4 separate regions of the Homo sapiens genome follow, and regions 2, 3 and 4 are each reported to be linked to region 1. The links are microRNA targets in miRTarBase. Many come from high-throughput screens and were not tested one by one. Region 1 holds a microRNA gene; each other region holds the end of a gene's coding sequence.
What was found. The annotated mature microRNA hsa-miR-1202 reads GUGCCAGCUGCAGUGGGGGAG and lies in region 1 at 1,548-1,568, opposite strand. An mRNA with a match to its seed (bases 2 to 7 or 8) in the 3' UTR can be bound and repressed. Matches are read on the target gene's strand: a 7mer-m8 pairs with bases 2 to 8, a 7mer-A1 pairs with bases 2 to 7 and ends in A, and an 8mer does both.

Region 2: miRTarBase lists ZWINT as a target of hsa-miR-1202. Seed matches in the 3' UTR shown: 7mer-m8 at 4,134-4,140.
Region 3: miRTarBase lists WNT9A as a target of hsa-miR-1202. Seed matches in the 3' UTR shown: 7mer-m8 at 2,575-2,581.
Region 4: miRTarBase lists NOL4 as a target of hsa-miR-1202. Seed matches in the 3' UTR shown: 7mer-A1 at 3,640-3,646.

Annotation. Positions count from the first base shown.
Region 1 is chr6:155,943,380-155,948,376 of GRCh38, reverse strand. It overlaps MIR1202 (microRNA 1202), which reads right to left and starts at 1,580; the gene lies at 1,498-1,580. All of the region lies in intron 4 of LOC101928923 (a long non-coding RNA gene), which reads left to right.
Region 2 is chr10:56,353,892-56,358,888 of GRCh38, forward strand. It overlaps ZWINT (ZW10 interacting kinetochore protein), which reads right to left. Exons shown (of 9, transcript NM_007057.4): 6 at 4,914-4,997; 7 at 4,665-4,833; 8 at 4,486-4,568; 9 at 3,336-4,294. The coding sequence ends at 4,527. Among named protein-coding and RNA genes, the nearest start is that of ZWINT, 4.9 kb to the right of the region's middle.
Region 3 is chr1:227,917,155-227,922,151 of GRCh38, forward strand. WNT9A (Wnt family member 9A) reads right to left here. Exons shown (of 4, transcript NM_003395.4): 4 at 1,502-4,846. The coding sequence ends at 4,364. Among named protein-coding and RNA genes, the nearest start is that of MIR5008, 22 kb to the right of the region's middle. RefSeq lists enhancers at 2,301-3,164, 3,165-4,027.
Region 4 is chr18:33,848,809-33,853,805 of GRCh38, forward strand. It overlaps NOL4 (nucleolar protein 4), which reads right to left. Exons shown (of 11, transcript NM_003787.5): 11 at 2,292-4,227. The coding sequence ends at 4,034. Among named protein-coding and RNA genes, the nearest start is that of ASXL3, 270 kb to the left of the region's middle.

The sequences.
Region 1 (4,997 bases):
TTGTAGTACTTAGCTGCTAATAATTATGTTGGGACAACAGCCTTAAACTGTCTCAGGCAAAGGGGGCATATGGCCATACTATTCATAGCACTTACTGTCACAGGATCCATAGGGTGTCACTTTTCCAGCCAGAAATCTCTGTGGCTGGTGGCGTCTTTGCCTGAGTTTTGCTTGGGCCCACGGGGCTCATTCTGCCCACTCAGCCTGGCAGGCTGTGCTGAGCTCATGCTACCAGCCCAGATCCCACGCCTACCAAGGGCAAGCCAGGCATGGAGCAGCAAGAGTTGTGTGAGCAGACAAGTGTGGGGTCCAGCCACAGTGCACAGCCAGGCACATCGGCTATTATGGAGGGGTGGGCAGCTCCAGGCATGTGCACAGGTGCCAGCTCAGATGCCAGCTCTGTGCAAGGCTGCAGCTGGATCAGATGTACCATAAGTGGCTTCTACCTGCATCTGGATGAGGGGAACATAGTGGTGCCTGGAAGCTTAGAGATGTCAGGAACTCCAGAGCCACAAAAAGGATGTCACAGCCCTGGCTTGGGGAGCCCCTAGGTCTGAGATCCTTGAAGGGCCACAGCTCTTCTCTCCTTCTCATCACCCACAATGCAGCAAGCAAGTGGCTTGTTTCACCCCTGTTTGTGTTATAGCTCTTTCAGTCCTGCCATTCAGTGGGTCCTGAGTTCTTGTCTTGCATCCAGGAAGAATGAGGTAGGTGGACAACTGGAGGGTGAGCAAAGTGGAGAGGAGCTTCATTGAGTGACAGAACAGCTCTCAGGAGACCCAAAGTGGGTAGTTCCTTGCTGCAGGCAGGTCATCCTGACGAGTGTGTGAGTCTGGCTGAGTCTGGGGTTTTTATGTGCTCAGAATGGAGGAAGTGTGTGCTGACTGGCCCACAGGCAGCCACAGTGGGCCTGGAAAATGCACCATCTGATTGGCTGAACAGTCATCAATGAAGTTCTCACTCTGGGCTGTAGCCTTTGCCCAGAACTGGCAGCCTGGCCCCCAGGCTTCACGCTGTTCCTGACCTGAAAGTGGGGTTTCACCAGAGACCCACCCCTTCCCGCCTAGGAATCTGTCTGCCTTTAACATGCCATTCACAGCACCCAGGCTGTCCATAAGGAGAGGCACCGGCAGGCATGCACTGAGCTGCTCTCAGCCTCCTTGCCCCCCACCCATGCTCAGTGATGCCCAAAGCCTAGAGGGGGCCAAGGTGGCAGGGTGTTGGTGTCAGTGCCATGCTGAGGACACGCACACCTGGCCAGGTTGCGACAGCCGCCAGGCTCAGCCACAACTTTGCTCTGCCCCAAGCAGGGACTGGGAACAGGGAGAGGACAGGGAGCTGGAGCAGGCATGTTCAAGCCTGCAGGGGCAGGGGGGTTCCTGGGCCCCTGAGAGTGCAGGAATGTCCAGGTCCAGAACCCTGGCTGGGCAGCTGTAGCTGTGTGCCAGGGAGCAAGGGGCTCCCATCCTGCCAACTCAGTAGGGGGTGGGGCTCCCACCTGTTCTTGGCACCTGCTGGCTAAGCAGAGTGGGCAGCCCTGGCAGTGCCTCCCCCACTGCAGCTGGCACCTCTGCAGCAGGTGCTCCAGATGGGCTGCTGCTGCCATCACTACCACCAGCTGACTTTGTTTTCCATAGAAGTTCCTTGAAGACATGAACTTTATTTTGTTCACTTAGAGCAGTGCCTGGCACATGGAGGGCCCTTAATAAATATTTATTGAATAATACTAAAATTAGCATTATATGCCAACAATTGTTCCATGTCTTGTAATATTCTTTAACAATATACATTTTAAAGGTTGTTAACACATGTTGACGAATTGCTTTCCAAAAAGTTTTTCTAGTCATTCAGCAACATTCTCTGGTCACTCTTAGAACATCGTTCAAATATTAGAATATATTAGTATCACTACTAATTTTATAGACAGTTCCAATGTGCATTTCTATGATGACTCAAAAGAATAAATAGGTTCTTTACATTTATTGGCTATTTGTATTTTTCCTGTGATTGTTATTATGTGCTTTGTAAAATAGGGGGTAAGGATTATAATTACACGATATGGTCTCCACACTCAAGACTTTAATTTAGCCAGTGAAAGAGTAAATTTTATAGGGAATAATAATTATGAAAAAGTTTAGGAATTGATTTTGTTGGGAAATAGTTAAGAAAAAATATTCAAAAGTTTAAAAAGAACAGAACTGGAAAGCTGCATAAAGTCCTAAAGCAGCAACATTTAGTTACTAAAACACATGGCTTTAAAAATATAACCATTGTTTCCTAATTGACTCTGCTATATCTGCATAGTGAATGGGAAAGGAGCAGAGATTTTGAAAGTGAAGCCCTTCCACTCCCACTCTTCATCAAAAGGGAATAGTACAGAAAGGAAGCAGCCATCACCTACTAGCTGCTATTGAAAATAATAGAATCAGTTAAAATTATACCAAATTGTAGCTATGTTAATTGAATTGCAATTAAAGTGATTATTGTGTGGTGTTATTTGGCAAAGGAACTCAGAAATAACTGTGTCCTGCCTTGCTATAGATACCTCTTGGGGTGAGCTTCCAAGGGCAAAAGAGTTGCAAGAGAAAGTCTGACCAAGCCGGTCATTGTCTCACATCTTTATTGCTTGGGCGCTAGCCTCCCTCTCCAACATAGGTCTTCAGGAAGTCAGCTGTTCTTGGAGCATTGTTCCTCTCTGAGCCAAGTGGCTCTTTCCTAACCCCAAACCTGGGTCTCTAATGTCAACACTCAGGTCGGTGGAAAGGTTGAATTAAAGTGGACTTCCCAAGATGAGAAGAAATAGAACATGAAGAAACGCAAGAGGGAGGGGATGGCAGGAGGAAGGTGCCTGCCCCAGTGCTGTGTCTCCTACTCCAGACTTTATCAAACCTGATCTAGGGCTGCCCTTGAGGCAGGAGAGAGTACAGAGTGGAAGAAAGAGAGAGCTAAAGATAAAGAGAGATGTTTGGGATTTTTCCAAGGGGAAATGGCTCAGGCCCTCATTACCATTCTGTACTCTGTGGAAGCAACAGAGACCAGAAAGGAAAAATCCACACTCCAGTGCTGCCACCTTCATCTGTTTGAAAATTATATCAATACACAGTGCTAAGGTTTGAATAATTCAGATCATAACTCTTTCCCATTGCGGGTAGGGTGTCTTGCTCTTGTTTTCTCCTTTGGAAGGAGTGATGAGGGGTGTGGAGAAAGGAGCAGAAATACTCAGTGAGCTTCTCTTGCAGGTCAACGCTCGCCATTCTGATCAGAGATAGGATGGCACAGGAGGGACAGGGCAATCCATGGGAAGTTTTGCTCCTGCCTTAAACGAGGTGAGAATACTCACAGCAAAATTAGGTCTAAAGCTCAGAGAGATGCTCTTTGCTGCAAAGGGTAACACTTGAAATAGAGCCACCTGGGGATTTATTAGCCTGAAAATTTCAGGAACTTCAAAGGAAACAATATTAAATGGGAAAGCATCAATTCTCATCAGAATTCAGAAATTTAGGGAAATAAGAACTATATATCAGAATGGAGAGATATTTTACATACAGTTTTTTGTTCATTTGTTTCCCTTGGTCTAAAAGAAGATTTAACCTTAAACTGAACTTGAATTTTTAGAATCAGAAATTTAAAACCAAAATGAACATTTAGCCATGATCTCAATGCTGAAACATTACAGATGAGAAGGTTGACATGGTATCACTAAGCTAGACTAGAATCCAAGCTTCCAGCCTAATATGTGGAGTCTTTTTTCATGTTTCCAGGAAATGAATCGTGTGATCGGATCTTACAAGAGGACAAATTTTGTTTAAAACTGAATGATAAAGATTGGCCACAAAGAAAGCTGGACACATACAAATTTTAAAATCCAGTTTCTATGTCTATGAATACAAGAAGAAGTGCATCACCAAAGTAAACAAGATCACAATCTAGTGATAGCTTAAACAATCTGTGAATGTGTGATCCATACTGCTCTCAGAAAGGGAAGGATGGTTTTTCTGGTGCTGCTACTAATAGAAAAGCACATACAGCATGCATGTCTAAGGCAGTCTCATGTAATATAGTAGTACCTTGGCTGGGCACGGTGGCTTATGCCTGTAATTCCAGCATGTTGGGAGGCCAAAGCGGACGGATCATGAGGTCAGGAGTTCGAGACCAACCTGACCAACATGGGGAAACCCCATCTGTACTAAAAATACAAAAAAATCAACTGGGCGTGGTGGTGCGTGCCTGTAATCCCAACTACTTGGAAGGCTGAGGCAGGAGAACTGCTTGAACCCGGGAGGCAGAGGTGGCAGTGAGCCGAGATTGTGCCACTGTACTCCAGCATGGGCAACAGAGCAAGACTCCATCTCAGAAAAAAAAAAAAAAAAAAAGAAAGAAAAAACATATATAGTAGCACTTTCTATTTACCAGGCACCATCAGAGGCATTTTACATGTTTCATTGCATTTTATCCTCCTAACAATCCAATGAGCTAAGTGTTGTTATTATCAATATTTTGCAGATGAGGAAACTAAATGACAGAGAGGTTGAGTCACTTGCTCAAAGTCACATGGTGTATTAGTGGTGGAACCAGGATAAACCACATGAATAGTGCTGAGAGTAACTGCTTTTATTAAACTGTGAAAGAGGGAGCAACTGCCACTTCCTAGAGTAGAATCTTACTCCAAACACACCACGGGGACCCATTAGAACCTAGCAAATGTGATGTTTGAAGAGGATTAACAAAAGGATGTGTTCTGTTGCTATTTATTTAGGTATTCTGGATTTCATTTTTAATCAAAGTAGATCATCAGAAGGCTACCCAATTGAAATATATCTTTGCCACTGATGGACTTGTTTTTACAAACTTTTCAGATAATGGCCTTGCCTTTTCTTGGAGGGTATTTTAAAGCACAACCTCATCAATTTCATTCTTATATTTTATTTAGGAATTGTGTTGAGGCATTGTCTGGTACATTATTTACTACCTTGTACATGCAACTCAGTGTGGAAAAA
Region 2 (4,997 bases), not on the chromosome of region 1:
TATTCCCTTTTGGAAAAACAAGCTCATAAAAACAATACTTCAATAAAATATATACGCCTAGTATTGTATGATGTACTGGTAGCACAGGGAAGAAAGCCATTTATTTTTAGAGATATTCAAAACCCTCACTGATCACCACTGCTGCAAAAAGTACAAGTTTAGCACTATAAGAGTTAAAGAGCAGCGGAAAATGCCCATCTTGTTATGGCAGGGGAGAGTATTAGAAATGAAACCTTAGTTTTATAAATTTCGAAACTGTACAGACAGAATGTGCAGTATTAGCTTTGCCAACACTATCTGGGATAATAAGAATATTTACCTGATAGAATAAGTCACATAAATTTAGAAGACCTTAATAATTTTAGGAGGGTACTTTGAACAAGTTTTCTCTCTCATGCTGTTTTTTAGAAACTGATCCTAGCAACTGGTTAGATAAAAATGATCAGAAATACTGAATGCAATGTGTTAAATGATTTTCAATGTTTAGAACTCTGTTAGAAAAAAATAACATTTTGGAAAAAGTAGATGCAAAAGAAGTCATAATATAGAAGTAAAATTTTTTTGGGGTGTTACCTCTGTGAAATCTCATACAAACTTCCAAGACACACTTAAAAATTTGGAATACCTCCTGTATGCATTGTGTTCCTTTTTCATTTTTGGCAACCATTTACATTTCCACCAATGTTTGTGGATCTACCCTCTATCAGTATTTTTCTTGAACTTGTGGGTTTAGTGATGAACAAAAATGATAAAATCTCTTCCCTATAAGAACATATATAATGACTACACATATACATAAGCCTATATGTAACTAATAAATTTTAAGGAACAATATTCAGAGGTGTGATACCATTTGAAGCAAATGGAATAAAAGAAGTAACAGTAAGATTACAAAATTTGGTGCATTAAAAATAACAAAATTATCTTAAATCCATTGAGGAACTAAACACTATTACAAATACATTTGAGAGGCAAGGGCAACAAAGGAAACCTCCTTGATTTAAAATAAAATCAATACTAAAATTATAATCTATTTAGAAATAATCAATAGCCTATGTATTAAAATATATGAATTATTCTCAGAGTGGTGGTCAAATAAAAATGTAAATATGTAAATGCGTTTGTTGGACTATAAAAAAGAACATATGTATTATCAAATATTAATTTTTAAAAATCCTACAAATATTAAAAATTAGAGCAGAAGGGAATAAAGACAAAAAATAATTAAAAGAATGTATTAAAAGCAACATTAAAGAAAATAATGCCAATACCTGTGTTTTTGAAAGACATATAAAGTAGAAAAAAGGCCTTTGGGAAATACTAATAAGAAAGAAAATAAACAACAGGAATGAAAAATGGGATAGCACACAAATATAAAAAACATTAAAAACACTCATTTTAACATTTCTAAGAGTTATACAGGTAATGCCCACAAGCTATTGACAGAAGTTAACACAAATTCTCTCAATTTTGTATCAGGCCGTAACGGTAAAATTTAGGAAAAATAGGCAGCTCAAAGTAAAACTACATGAACTATATTAAACAGGGAGTATGAGAGATAGGCCAATAAAGTTATATATTATGAACCTTTCCAAAAAAGATAATGAAGTGTCCATATATTAAGATAATAAAAAATAAGCTCGTATGTATACCTACTATGTAGTCAAATACATCAAGAATTAAAAAAAAAAATTTAAAAAGCTCAAAATGTAAGCCAGAAGAAAATATTCAAAAGCAGTAGTAAATTGAGATCTAATACAACTTATTGAAATGAAAATCAAAGATCAAAAATTAAGAAACTGATGAAAAAACAATAGCTTGGCTATATAAAGTTAAAATAGAAAAAGCATCTAGAATGCAATCTCAGAAAGAGCAATGGTAACTACAAAAGAAAGTTTGCATGACATGAAGAAAAAAGTTAGAAAATTTGATTGATGTCTAATTGGCATTTTAGAATAAGCTAATACAAAAGAGGTGTTTTTTAAACAGATAAACTGAAAATATTCCAGAATTGTTGAAAGAGTGGCAATTTAGAAAGCTCAACTATTTGCAAGCAGAATGAATGAATAAATAAGTAAACCAGAGTCCCAAACTATTCACAATATAGTAAAACTATAGAGCACTAAATACAGGTGTTAAAAGCACTAACTGGGTAAAAAAATGCATAGGAAGGGCTTTTAAACTGACAGTTGACTTCTCATCATCAAGGATCAAAACCAGATGACCAGAGAATCAGTTGAGTTAATCTTCAATGTGTTAAGTCAAACTGCCTACCAAGCATTCTCTACATAATAAAAACATTTCTCAAGAATAAGGATGAAATAAAAATATTTTCATAGTAAAATTTAAAACATTATACAGTCTGCAAACTCTAAGGGAAATTCTGAGACATTTATTTCAGATGGAAAAAGTATTCCACATGAAAGCTCTGAAATGTAAAAATAATGTGGGCAAAAATAGTAAATAAATTAGTAATAAAGCATTGACTGTATAAAATAATTTAAAAAATTAATTTATGAGAACACAAACAGGCTAGAAGTAATAAACTGGACAAAAATACCTTAATAGTTTAGAGTGGGATGATCTATCAATGGTTACAGCTGTTTAGGCTTCATTTATTAAGAAAAGGATGAAGAGTCTTTAATTCTTTAAATAACTTGAGACATTGCTAACTATGAAAGCTAAACTAGCCGGTCTAAATTAGACCTTCTAAACAAACAAACAACAAAAAGCATGAAGAAACAATAAAAAATAAAAGGCATGAAAGGGATAAATAAAAAGCCAAGAGAAAGCAAATAAAAAATTGACACAACTAGAAAATCATAAAGACAAATGTGACAAGAGTTTTTTTTTTTTTTATAAATAACCCTTTAAATGCTGTATACAAGTGGTAAATATAAAGAAAGGTTGAAACTAAAAAAGAATGGAAATTCAAGAGAAAGGATGTCAAGCAAAGGGTAACCAAAAGAATTGACAGTTATATTAATATTAAAACTAGTAGTTTTCAAGGTTAAACACATTAGCCTATAGATGAAGCAGGCTACCACACAAAGAGTTCAGTTCAGAAGAAAAATATAAATGTAAATTTACATATACCTTAATAAAGTAACTGCAAAGTATGTAAGAAAATGGAACTATAAAGACAAATGCACAAATCCACTATCATAGTTGGAGATTTGAACACACCTCTCAGGTGACAGACAACAAAAAATTAAGTATATAAGATATAAATTGAAACAAAAATTGCAAACATAATCTAATAGAAAATACTACACACAATCTAAAATGCATTCTTTCCAAACCTATGTGAAACATTAAAAAAGATGACATCACTCTTTATCAGTAAAAAAGATAATTCACTCACCAAATTTCAAAGTTTATTAAACAGATGATATTCTCTGACCAAATTAAACTTAGATTATCTTCTCACAATCAATAGAAGACCAAATTATTTTTCAAAGAAATTTATGAATCAATGAAATAATTATAACAGAATATAGGAAATGCTATGAATTGAATGATTGTGAAAATAAAGGAAGTCAGAAGAAATGTATAACCTTAAATATTTATTTGAGAAAACAAATAAAGATCCAAATACGTGAGTTGATCATCTGATAAAAGTAAGAGTTGACAAAAAAGGTACATCTTCTCCAATCCGAAAACAGAAAGTGGGAAAGATCAAGGTATCACTAGAGGTCAATGAAACAAAACATACAATAGTGGATGACAAAAGCCAATCTCTGAATCTTTGAAAAGAATATAATAAATGAACATCTGAAACCAGTGATCGAGAAATGTTTTAGATAAGGCACAAAAAGATACCAAGAATGTTAACACTAGGCTGTACATCCTAAAACAGTCAGATGAGCTCACTGTTATAATTCTGGTTCACCGCAAGAACCTTAGCACAAAGAAAGGACTCAACAAACATTTGGATCCATGAATAAAATTATCTTCCCACATATAACCACCTGCCTAAAACATTCTCCTCCTCCTTGAATTAAATTCACCATGTCTGCATCATAGGAGGCCCAAGGCCAGTACCCCCTCCCCATCTGCACACCCTGTGTTCAAACCAGTCCCAGCTCCTGTCATGTTATTGGCTTCTGAGTATCTGTATTAATAGTTGTTCCTGCCAGCATATGAAGATGAACAAATACACAACTGAGAGAGATCCAGGGATTTTAATCCACAGATGCCAGAGCTTGCTGGGATGTAGTCAGAAATCAAGCTGAACTCAGGAGTTCACAGTCTTTCCTGTAATGATGGTTGGGAGGTGAGGGAAGTCAGAGGCCTGGGGAAGAAGACAGGGGTTAGCTCTGGGTGGGCTAAGCATGGGAATGAGGTGTAACATAAGCTCTTTCCTGTTCCCACCATCCATCTGCTCCATGGGTAGCAGAGCTCAGATGCAGAGAGAGGTAAACCAGGCTTTCCCTCCTTCCACACTTGCAGTCCAGGGACACCAAGGCCTGAGTTGGGTCTGACCTTTTCTAGGATCTTTCTCCATGCTGCTGTCCTCCAGGAAGTCATGGCAAATTTACATCTCCAGCAGGTTGTAGACCAACAGCCTTGGAGAAATACAGTATAGACAGTGGGTAAGGCCAATCTCCCAGCTTCTGTCTCCACCTGCCAGCCCATGCCCACCTGTTCCATCTCTCATTTACCTTGAAGGACACACCAGGGTCTCTCCCCATGGTGTCTCCTGTACTCTGCTCCTGGGGTCGAGTCGGCTGCTGGGGTTTATCATCTGGAAGATTCTCTGCCTCAGCCTCAGCCTCAGGGAACAACAGCTTACCCTGCAGGGTATACAGAAGCTGGAGGAAGGTCTGATACCTACAAAGAGGAGGTAAGTGTGAAGGAAAGGAATCTCAGCTGGACCATTTTGAATCTGCAGCCCATGCTCCCGAACTTACCTCTGCAGCTTGTCCCGCTCCTGTTCTGCCTGCTGCTTCAGGTTTCCAAGTTTCTGAAACACCCTGTCAAGCTCCTGCTGAGTC
Region 3 (4,997 bases), not on the chromosome of region 1:
GCCCCCGCCTGCCTGTCGCCTGCACCCGGATTGAATTCAGCTATGGTTTCACTGCTGTCACTCAGAAGAATGGTCTCATTCAGGCCACCTGCTCCCTGGCTGGACAGCTCACATCCCCCTCCCGCCTGGGCACAGAGGCCCAAGCCCCTGACCACCCTGCCCTGCACAGGCCTGTCCCTCCAGGCAGAGCTATCCAGTGTGGCTTCACCCGGCAGTGGCCAGAGGCTGAGGGCCAGGGGCCGGCACCAGGAAGCCCCCACCGGCCTCTTAGTAGGAGCTGTGGCCATGGGTCTGGAAAGGAAGCCTGGACTGTTCCCATCAGGGAGATAATCCCACATTCCTCAGTGGGCAGCCCCTCCCTCCCCGGTGCTGTGGTGGGCGTGGACCTGGATGTCTGGGAGGGCACAGACCAGACGCGAGGTGGCAGGAGAGGGGCAGGCAGGGTCTGGAAGGGCGAGTGAGGGGTTTCCTGCAGGGCATGTTGCAGTGGTGGGGGACCCACAATGTGGGCTCAGAAGGGTGATGGAGGTGAGAGGAAGGTGAGGACTGTGGGCTGGGAACTGGCTTCGAGTCAGGGAGGTGAGGGGCTATGCCCAGAAGACCCCACATGCAGGGCAGGGGGATGATGAGGCCCTGCTTGTGACCCAGCAAGAGAGTGAGGGGCCTCCTTCAGCAAGAGGCTGTGGGCAGGAGTGGGATGGAGCTAGGTGTCTGAGAAGACGGGGCTGGACAGGGCTTCCTGTGGCACCCCAGGCTCTCCAGCCTGGACATGGGAAGCACAGAGACTAGGGTCAGCTGGGGCCATACACGCAGCCTGGAGATGCCTGCCCAACAAAGGTGCCAAATGTGGCTGGGAGATGGGGCTTCTCCCCCAGGGTTCCTTCTTAAGTCCTCCTCCTCCCAACGGTCCTCCTCTTCCTCAGGGCTGTCCTCCTCAGGTCCTCCTTCTTCCCAGGGCCCTCCTCCTCCCCAGGTCCTCCTCTTCTTCAGGGCTGTCCTCATCAAGTCCTCCTTCTTCCCAGGGCCCTCCTCCTCTCCAGGGCCCTCCTCTTCCCCAGGGCCCTCCTCCTCCCGAGGGCCCTCCTCTTCCACAGGGTCCTCCTCCTCCCCAAGTCCTCTTCCCAAGGGCCCTTCTCCTCCCCAGGTCCTCCTCTTTCCCCAGGCCCTCCTCCCCAGGGTCCTCCTCCTCTCCAGGGTCCTCCTCCTCCTGAGGGTGCTCCTTCTCCCCAGGGCCCTCCTCCTGTCCAGGTTCCTCCTCCTCCCCAGGGTCCTCCTTCGTGGATACCCCTTCTCCCCAAAACCTCCCCCTTCCTCCTCCTCCCTGGTCCCTCCTCCCAATTTCTCCTCCTTCCCAGGCATACCTCCCCGAGCCCACCTCCTCTCCAACCCTCTTTCTTGTCCTCCTCTTCGCAGAGGCCAACTCCTAGGCCTCCTCCTCAGGCCCTCCTCCTCGTCCCAGGCCTACAGAAGCCCCTGTGAAGGCAGCAGACTGAGATGAGGCTATAATTTAAAATACATTTATTTAATGTTTCCATTTGTTTCTGGTTCTGTGACACAAAGCTGTTAAATAAATACATTCTCCACAGTCCCTCTGGGACGGGCCACACAGATGAGGTAGAGAAATCATTGCACGCACGGAGACTCGGAGCACAGACAGGGCCCCTCCCACCCACCCACACCTGGCCAGAAGCCACCTGGGGGTCCAGGTCCCTCAAGGCAGGGCCTGGTGCAGAGAAGGTGGCTGGGATCCCCTGGCCAAGGAGCGGGCTGAACCCCTCCCAACAGCCCTTTCTCCTCTACTGCCCCTCAGAAGAGAAGCGCATGAAACAGGAGGCTCCGGCTGAGCGGCCTCTTCATCCAGCAAGACATTCGAATATGTATTTGTATAGAAACCAACTAGCTAGCAGACATTTTTGGTCTGCCTTGTTTAAAAAAATAGTTTTCTGAATATTTATGACATAGAGCTAAATGTGGTATTTGATTAAAAATAAAAACCTTCCTCTGACTTGACGCCCTTCATAGACCCAATAGTGACTGAGTGACAGTCTTGTCATGTCATGAGGGTGTGGCCAGCTATGCTGCTCAGGGACCAGTGGATGCGGACACTGCAGAGGGCAGGGGCTACCACCCCCACCCCTTCTAGCCAGGCTTCACCAGACAAAGGACAAACCCAGCGTCTTGCACCCACACTGTGGTACGGGGATGCAGCTGCAGGCACATGTCGGGGTGCTCTCTGAACCACAGGAGAATAAAGGTTCTTATGTACTATAACACAGGGACGGCAGAGACCCACAGCAACATAAATAGGTTTTCTTTTAAAAACACAGACACCCCGGCTTTCTGGAGACCCTTAGGGCTCTGAGACACCTATTCACTCAGTAGTTCCTGTATCCATACCAGCAACCCGCCCAGAACCCAGCCCACAGCCATCAGGACACCCACAAGACGGAGCCCAGGGCGAGAGGCTCTGGGAACCTAAGGCACCGCCATGCCACTGACAGCACAGCACAGCCAAGCTGACCATGCCAGTATACACACACACACACACACACACACACACACACACACAGACCATGCCAGCATGCATTTATACAACACACGCTTACACACATTGACCACGCCAGCACACACGCACTCACAACACTCACAACATACGCACACGTATGCACACTGACCACGCCAGCACACACACTCTCACAACACACACACACACTACACCCTCAAACCAAGCCAGGTCAGTGCAGGTCACCCTGTCCCCAGCACACACAACAGCAGGGCCATAAAGCATGGCGTTCCATGGCCAGATGCGAGCCCAAGACTGCCTCCACCGGCATCTGTCCCAATCTGTCCCCCAGTGACACAAAGCAAGCAGCTTCCTCATGACATGACATGAACCAATCAAAGGGCTGCCCTGCCCCCTCACCATGCCCGCCCCTCTCCACCACCCCCAGCTCGAGAATCTGCACTGAGCTGCCTGGAGGCCGGGCGTCTGCCCACAGGGTGCAGGGCAGGGGCCGCCGGCTGGCCCACCACGTGGCAGTGGCTGGCTGGCATGGGGCTGGGGGAGCTGGCTTCCAGAAGCCCCAAGGGCTGTGGCCAGACGCAGCTCACTGTATTTCCTTAACTACACACATCTATCTCGATTTAGTGGTTTCAAACAACTAAGCAGATCAGAGGCAGGGTTAGGAGGGAATATGTCAGGGACGGAAGGCGGGGCCCTCCCAGACTGGGGCTTGGCCGAGAGCGGGGAGCTGCAGCCGGGGAGGTGGCAGGGATGGAGAAAATAATAATTATTATATTAGTTAAATAATCATAATAATTTAAAAGTCACTGATATTTACTCCAAAGAGAAGTGCTCAACGTCAGAGGTCGGCAGTGTCCCCCCGAGCCTGGGCACCCGCACGGCCGGGCCCTGGGAGTGCAGAACAGGCTGCGTCCTCTTCTAGTGGTTTGAGTCTCTGAAGACAGTGCTGGTGTTGGGGCAGCCTGGGCCAGGCCAGTCCCCAACGGGTGGCCCACACGGAGGCCGCATGGTCACCAAGGTGCACCTGCCACCCATGCCTCAGAGGAGGTGGGGAGGGAAAGCCAATGGACTGGCATGGGGAGCCGCTTCCCAGGGACTGGTGTGTTAGGGATGGGAGAAAGCTCAGAAAGCATTGGTGCAATGCTCTCGGGTCAGAGGGAGGAAGCTGAGGCCCAGGGCACAAGCAGAGAGGTTGCATACGCCAGACCAGAGCCAACCCCCGCCTCTGGGTCCTGGAGAGGGGGAGATACAGGGCTTGGACAGCCAACCCAGAGGACCCCCGGCACCCTGCTCCAGCTGTACGCCCCGACGTGCTAGAAAAGCCTCTCAGTCCTTGCAGGTGTAGACCCCTCATACTGCATGCATGGCCCTCACCCTGCACAGCAGGGTTGGCCAGGCCCGGGGACTCGTCCCTTGCAGGTGTAGACCTTCTCACACCATGTGCAATGCCTGCACTCTGAGCAGCAGGGCTGACTGGGCCCAGGGCCTCAGCCCTTGCAGGTGTACACTCCTCACACCGTGTGCAATGCCTGTGCCATGTGCAGCAGGGCTGACTGGGCCCAGGGATTCAGCCTTGGCAGGTGTAGGCCCATTCATGCTCTGTGCAATGCCTGCACCCCATGCAGCTAGGACTGAGCCCAGGGACTCACCCCACGCTGCTAGGTCTGAGCCCAGGGACTCAGCCCATGCAGGTGTAGACCCATTCACACTGTGTGCAATGCCTGTACCCCACGCAGCTGGGCTGGTCGAGCCCAGGAACTCAGCCTGTGCAGGTGTAGACCCTTCACACCGTGTGCAATGCCTGCACCCTGTGCAGCAGGGCTGGCAGGGCCTGGGAACTCAGCCCTTGCAGGTGTAGACCTCCTCACGCTGCGTGCACTGCCTGCACTCCACATAGCAGCACCAACGCACCTGGCACTGGCAGGGCCTTGTCACCACCCGGCTCTGTGTGTTATGGCCGCGGCCACAGCAGATGCTCTCGCAGTTCTTCTCACGGTGGCACCTACGGCCAGCGGTGCCCGGGGAGAAGCGGCCAGCCAGGCAGAAGCTAGGCGAGTCATCCAGGTGCACCAGCTCTGGAGTGCGGGGCAGCGGGTCGCTGCCACCTGCCCCCGAGGCACGGCCCCGTGGTGGGGAGATGGCACCTGCCTCGCCGGCAGCTTCATTGGTGGTGCTGCCCACCTTGAGTGCCGTCTCATACTTGTGCTTCAGATGCTTGCCCACCTCATGGAAAGGCGCCAACTGCCGCCAGCAGGTCCGCACCGTGCATGAGCCTGACACGCCGTGGCACTTGCAGGTGGTCTCCACCCCAGCCTTGATCACCTGGCAGAAGGGTGCGGGAGGGAGGGCAGTGTGAGGGCTGTGCAGGTGGGCCCAGTGAGCAGACCCTGCCCTGGACCCCCAGAGGGACCCCACACCCCCACCCAGGCCCAGGCCCTGCCGGCGGGCGTCACCACTGCACATCTCACATCCA
Region 4 (4,997 bases), not on the chromosome of region 1:
GGAAAACTATTACTAGTACACTCCCATAATGTCACACTACACAATCATTAAAGTAATTTAAGAAGAATGCCTGATGATTTGGAAAATATTTATGGTATATAATTAGGTTATGATAAAAGACCACATATGGTAAAAAACAGAAAAAAATACGTATATACACTTCAGATAAAATCTGAAAGATACACTATAAAATGTTTCTCATGGTTCTCTATAGATGCTGACATTTAATTCTTTCTTTGTTTTTATTTCTTATCTTTTTTCTTCCACTTCCCAAGTTTCTTTTGTAATCAGAAAAAATTAAATGTTGAACATGACTGATGTTAAAACTGGAGAGAGGTTACTTTATTAATAGCATTGTATGTCCTTTCAGAAACTTTCTTAAGAAAGAAGACAGCTATAACTAATATAGTAATTTTCTGTAGATTAGCTTGTGTTCAATTTACTTTACTGAATATCAGCATCCCAAACACACTTCAAAAGATATGATAATGTCTACCTACATTATTTTTGAATTTTTTTTCTACAAAACATCTTAAAACGTGGGCCACATGAAATTAGAAAATATTTTTGCCATAGAAAGTTTAATCTTTGAATGATTGTGTTCATGCTGTCAGGGTTAATGACAATAGCAGGATAGCACCTGTATAGTGTCTGGGGCAAAAACCTCAAGTGAATGAATTTTTCTTTATGAGTTCAACTGGATAATCCCTTTTACTTTTCCTTACAGAATTCAATACAAGCCCCCATTGATAAAAAGTCACTGCCTTTCCCTTTCATGCTTTGTGTACTTGATTTTCATTAGTGGTGGGTTTTATGGTGGGTTTTAATATTTGTAAAGAACATATCGTAAAGGAAATTAAATCTTGTATAGCAGAATAAAACTGTGTTTAGTCAAATAATTGGATAAGTTATGTGCATTTTTAATAAATAACTGTGATTTATTTGTACATATAACATTTCTAAAATTTAGTGTAAAAGCTTGGTTCTAAGATACAGTGCAGAATTTAATTATTTAGTACTCGTGAAGGAGCAGATGTCAGTGAGCAACAGGGTGGGCTCTGGCATCCGGTGTGCCTGGGTTCAAAGGACGGCTTCAACTCTCACTGTCTTTGTGCTCTTGATTACTAATTTCCTCTTTTGGAGACGACTTTGTAGAATGGAGAGTGACTATGCTCATCTCAGGTTATTATAAGAAGTAAAGGAAGCAAAATGCATTTCCTTGGTAAATAATCATTAAATAGTGGCTGAGATATCTTAAAGCCCTTTTCACTGAGTATTGTTATTTGTACTACACAATTTAAGATTCAGTGACTTTGTGCTTGCATGTGCTATGGTTATTTCAAGGCACTTTTTATCAGCATGATAAAATAATACATATGTGACAAGAAACTGGTGTTGTATGATAAGCTACCTGGCAGAAGTGACAGAAGCTTCTGTTTGATCTCTGTGTTAATGATAGTTTCCTATTTTTTAATCGCCTCATTTGAATGAGAGTATGAACCTTCACTCGGTTTCTCCAAAATGCTTTATAAAGAAATGTGATCTCTTTATTCTGCTGTGACAGAGGGTAAAAAAAAGGACCAGGCTGTTTTTCAGGTACAAGTAAAGAAAAAAATGGACTTCATTTTGGCCTTTGTACTCTCCCAGGAATGATGGGAGTCCCAAGATACTCATTCTTTTGAACAAATGTGCCAAACACAGACGATTTTGGGTATTTTGTCCTTGGTGAGTGGATGTGGGAGTTATAATTGAAGATGAAAATGAAATAGAAACAAGTGCATCTTGTTGGAATTTACCTTCTTTACTCCCTTTGCTTCTTAACCATCAAGAATTTTTGACATATACCCTAAATTCAAGCCTGAGTGTTAATTTGCAAAATAGAAACCCTGTCCAAGCCTTTAAATACTATTACAGCAAAAGGCAAAGTATAAAACATGCACTTAAAACAGGCATGTGTTTCATCCAAGATGTTAAATCGGGAAGAACTAAAAAATAACAGGTTACTCCTGAAAAAAAAAAGTAATAAAATATACAAAAATATTCTCTATTCATATTTGAATAATCAAATGAAGTAGTCTTGGCTTCCTAATTTCCTTACCCATTCTTGGAATAAATTCTTTATTAGAATGAATGTTGAGACCCTGGGGGATCTTAGGATATTCTTGAGAAATAAATTTGAAGTGCCAATTTTGTGCTAAACGTAGGTAGAAAATGGCGTTTTAGATTTTAAAAGTAAATGGCTAAAAATTAAGCATTATACCCTTCAGAAAGTTTATAAGGTTTGACAATCATTCTTTTAACACAGAAATCTGTTTATTAAACCAAACAAAACAGAGAAAATTATACCAGCCCTCAATTTTTGAATTTTCATTTAAATAAGCAAACTCTAAATCCACATCTTAAAAGATGTTTGTGCAGCTATGTATTTCCAAAATACTCATATTTCAATAAGATTTTTCACATTATATTCACCAACAGTATCACAAAAGTTTTTTTTTTGTTTTTTGTTTACATAATTGTAAGGAACAGTAATTCTAGAAACACTAGAAGAAAAAAGCATAGCAATGTCCACAGTTACAAGAAAAAGTGCACATTACTCGGTCACAATCACAGTCATTACTTGAAAAACTATATGTAACAAGTAGATAAGAAATATCACTGATGCCTCAAACTCATTGTCAAAAACTGAATGACATAAATTTTACATGAAATAAGGCAAATTCAGGAATGCACAAAGAATTTGTAATCCAACCAAAGCTAAACAACAGAAAAAAGTTGTATAAGAAGCATGAACTAAAGTACTTCTCCCTAAATATTTAAAAAATAGGCTTGTCTCAGTGCACAAAGAAAACATCACTCATGTGTATCCCACACTATAAAATAAGAAAGAAGGGTAAAGTATGGGGGATAGGAGGGCACAGTTCATTGTAAGTTGCAGCTGCATCCGCTGAGAGTTCCTTACATTATTTTTAGCTAGAACTGAAAATTATACAAATCATATCAGGAGATGTAATGGTCTTTTTGGAAACTATTTCTGAAAGAAATGAAAAGAAAACTACACACAAGAGTGCAAATTTTCAGATTGTCACTTGCAACCTCTTAACATTCAGTCATCTACATCCAGGTGCTGCTAGAGGGATGCCTGGAGACAGCAGCGGCAATCAGGAACGAGCAGCTCTAAGAAACCAAGGTGTGATTTTTTTTCAACAACATGTCTTGTCATTATTAAAAAAAAAATTCTGGGATGAAAACTGCTATGATAAAGTTGCAGTGTTGAGTGGGGTTTTTGAGATCAGCATGAGAGCAGAAATGCAGGCTTCTCTTGGAAGTAGTTCCTGATGTGACGATTGAAAGAACGTAGGCAAGGGTTTTTCCAGCATCAAGTGTTATTTTTGTAGAAAGAATTTGGAAAGAGGAGAAGGCAAAGGGATGTGGAAAAGGTACTTACAGTAGTTTCTCAAAACAGTTTTCTTTTAGGACCTATGAAAAAGTTACCAAAGTAAAAATGACAAGTTTGAATGAAAAACAAGTTTTCTTTTTATAAAAATTACATATTTTTTTAAAATACGAGATCCTTTTCATTGTTGTTATATCCTGTAGCAACAAGAAATTTGGCTTTTTTTTTTCTTTTTTTTTTTTTTGCCAGGTACTTCAGCTTTCAGTCCAATGAGTCAGTAGCAAATTCCACTAATATTTCAGCTGGATCTTGAACTATTGTTTTATACCACAAGCTTCTTCTGTTTTATCCTTGAATTAAGAATAGATAGCCTTTTATGCCCCTGATATTTATGGTGACACACTAAAACAAAAAGCAATAGGCTGGACATACTAAAGTAGCTCAAGTACTTCAGAGGTCAGAGTTCCTTTGAAGCACCTTAACACATCACTTACGGATCAAGGACAATGTGGCATAATGGAAGTATTTCTCTTAAAAGACTGTGCAGTAAGACCAGAAGTATCTCTGTTGGGAAATCAAAATGTCATTAGTGGAAACTGCAAATTTAGACCTCAGTGAATATGGTGGTCGTCTGTCTCAGTTCTGTTGTAAAATGAGATTTTCCAGTTCATCTGCAGATCGCAATAAAAATGCAGCTGATTCTCGATATCCTGCAACAAGCTGTCTCACGGCATTGATTTCAGTTGGACTCAGCTGGGGTCTGGAGTTTGAGCTGCTGGAGGATCCTGAGCTAGTCGCCAATTGTCTCTTCATGCTGAGATCAGTGGGTCCTAGAAAGAAAATCATCACAAAATTAGACATAAATATTATTTGTTCCAGCATCTTGGATGTGAGCATTCAATAAATTATAGTTGAATGAATTAATGAATTCTTCCACAAGAAGCTAGTGATCTCTTTAATCAAATACATCTACTCTCAGAAAGATTAATGAGCAATGTAATGGTAACCGAGTGGCTTCTCTTCGGTCTTCTCTCAGATGCCGAAATCAGCCTCTGGAAATCACCTCTTGCTGTAGAGAGATGGTGAAAACTTTCTTGGAACATGTGTTTTTTGAAAAATTCAATTTTAAATCTGTCTTCCATATGTTGTAGACGCTTCTCATAGTAGCATAACATGATGGGAATTACAAACATTTTTCATTTGTTACATTCATTAACAGATATCTTAGACCGCATCAATTTGCAATTTAAAAAAACTGTGATGCTAATGACTTTAGAGTACAAACTAGTCAACTTAGCAAAAAGGAAACTAAGGACTAAAGGACTTCAGGAATATGTTTAGAGTTTGACAACGTTTAAGTGGCACAACCAGGACTTGACTTAAGTATTTTATTATTATTATTTTTCATTTCAGGCAGATGTTGTTTACCATGTTGATTAGTATTAAAAGTGTTGACATATTACATTGGAATTTGCTTTAGAAGTGCAATAAGTGATTACTGCAAACAATACCACAGAGAACCTAGACATTTGGAATACTGACTTACGTGTTTAGGAATTTAATGTCATCTCTGTATTTATTTGCACAAAACACATTCATG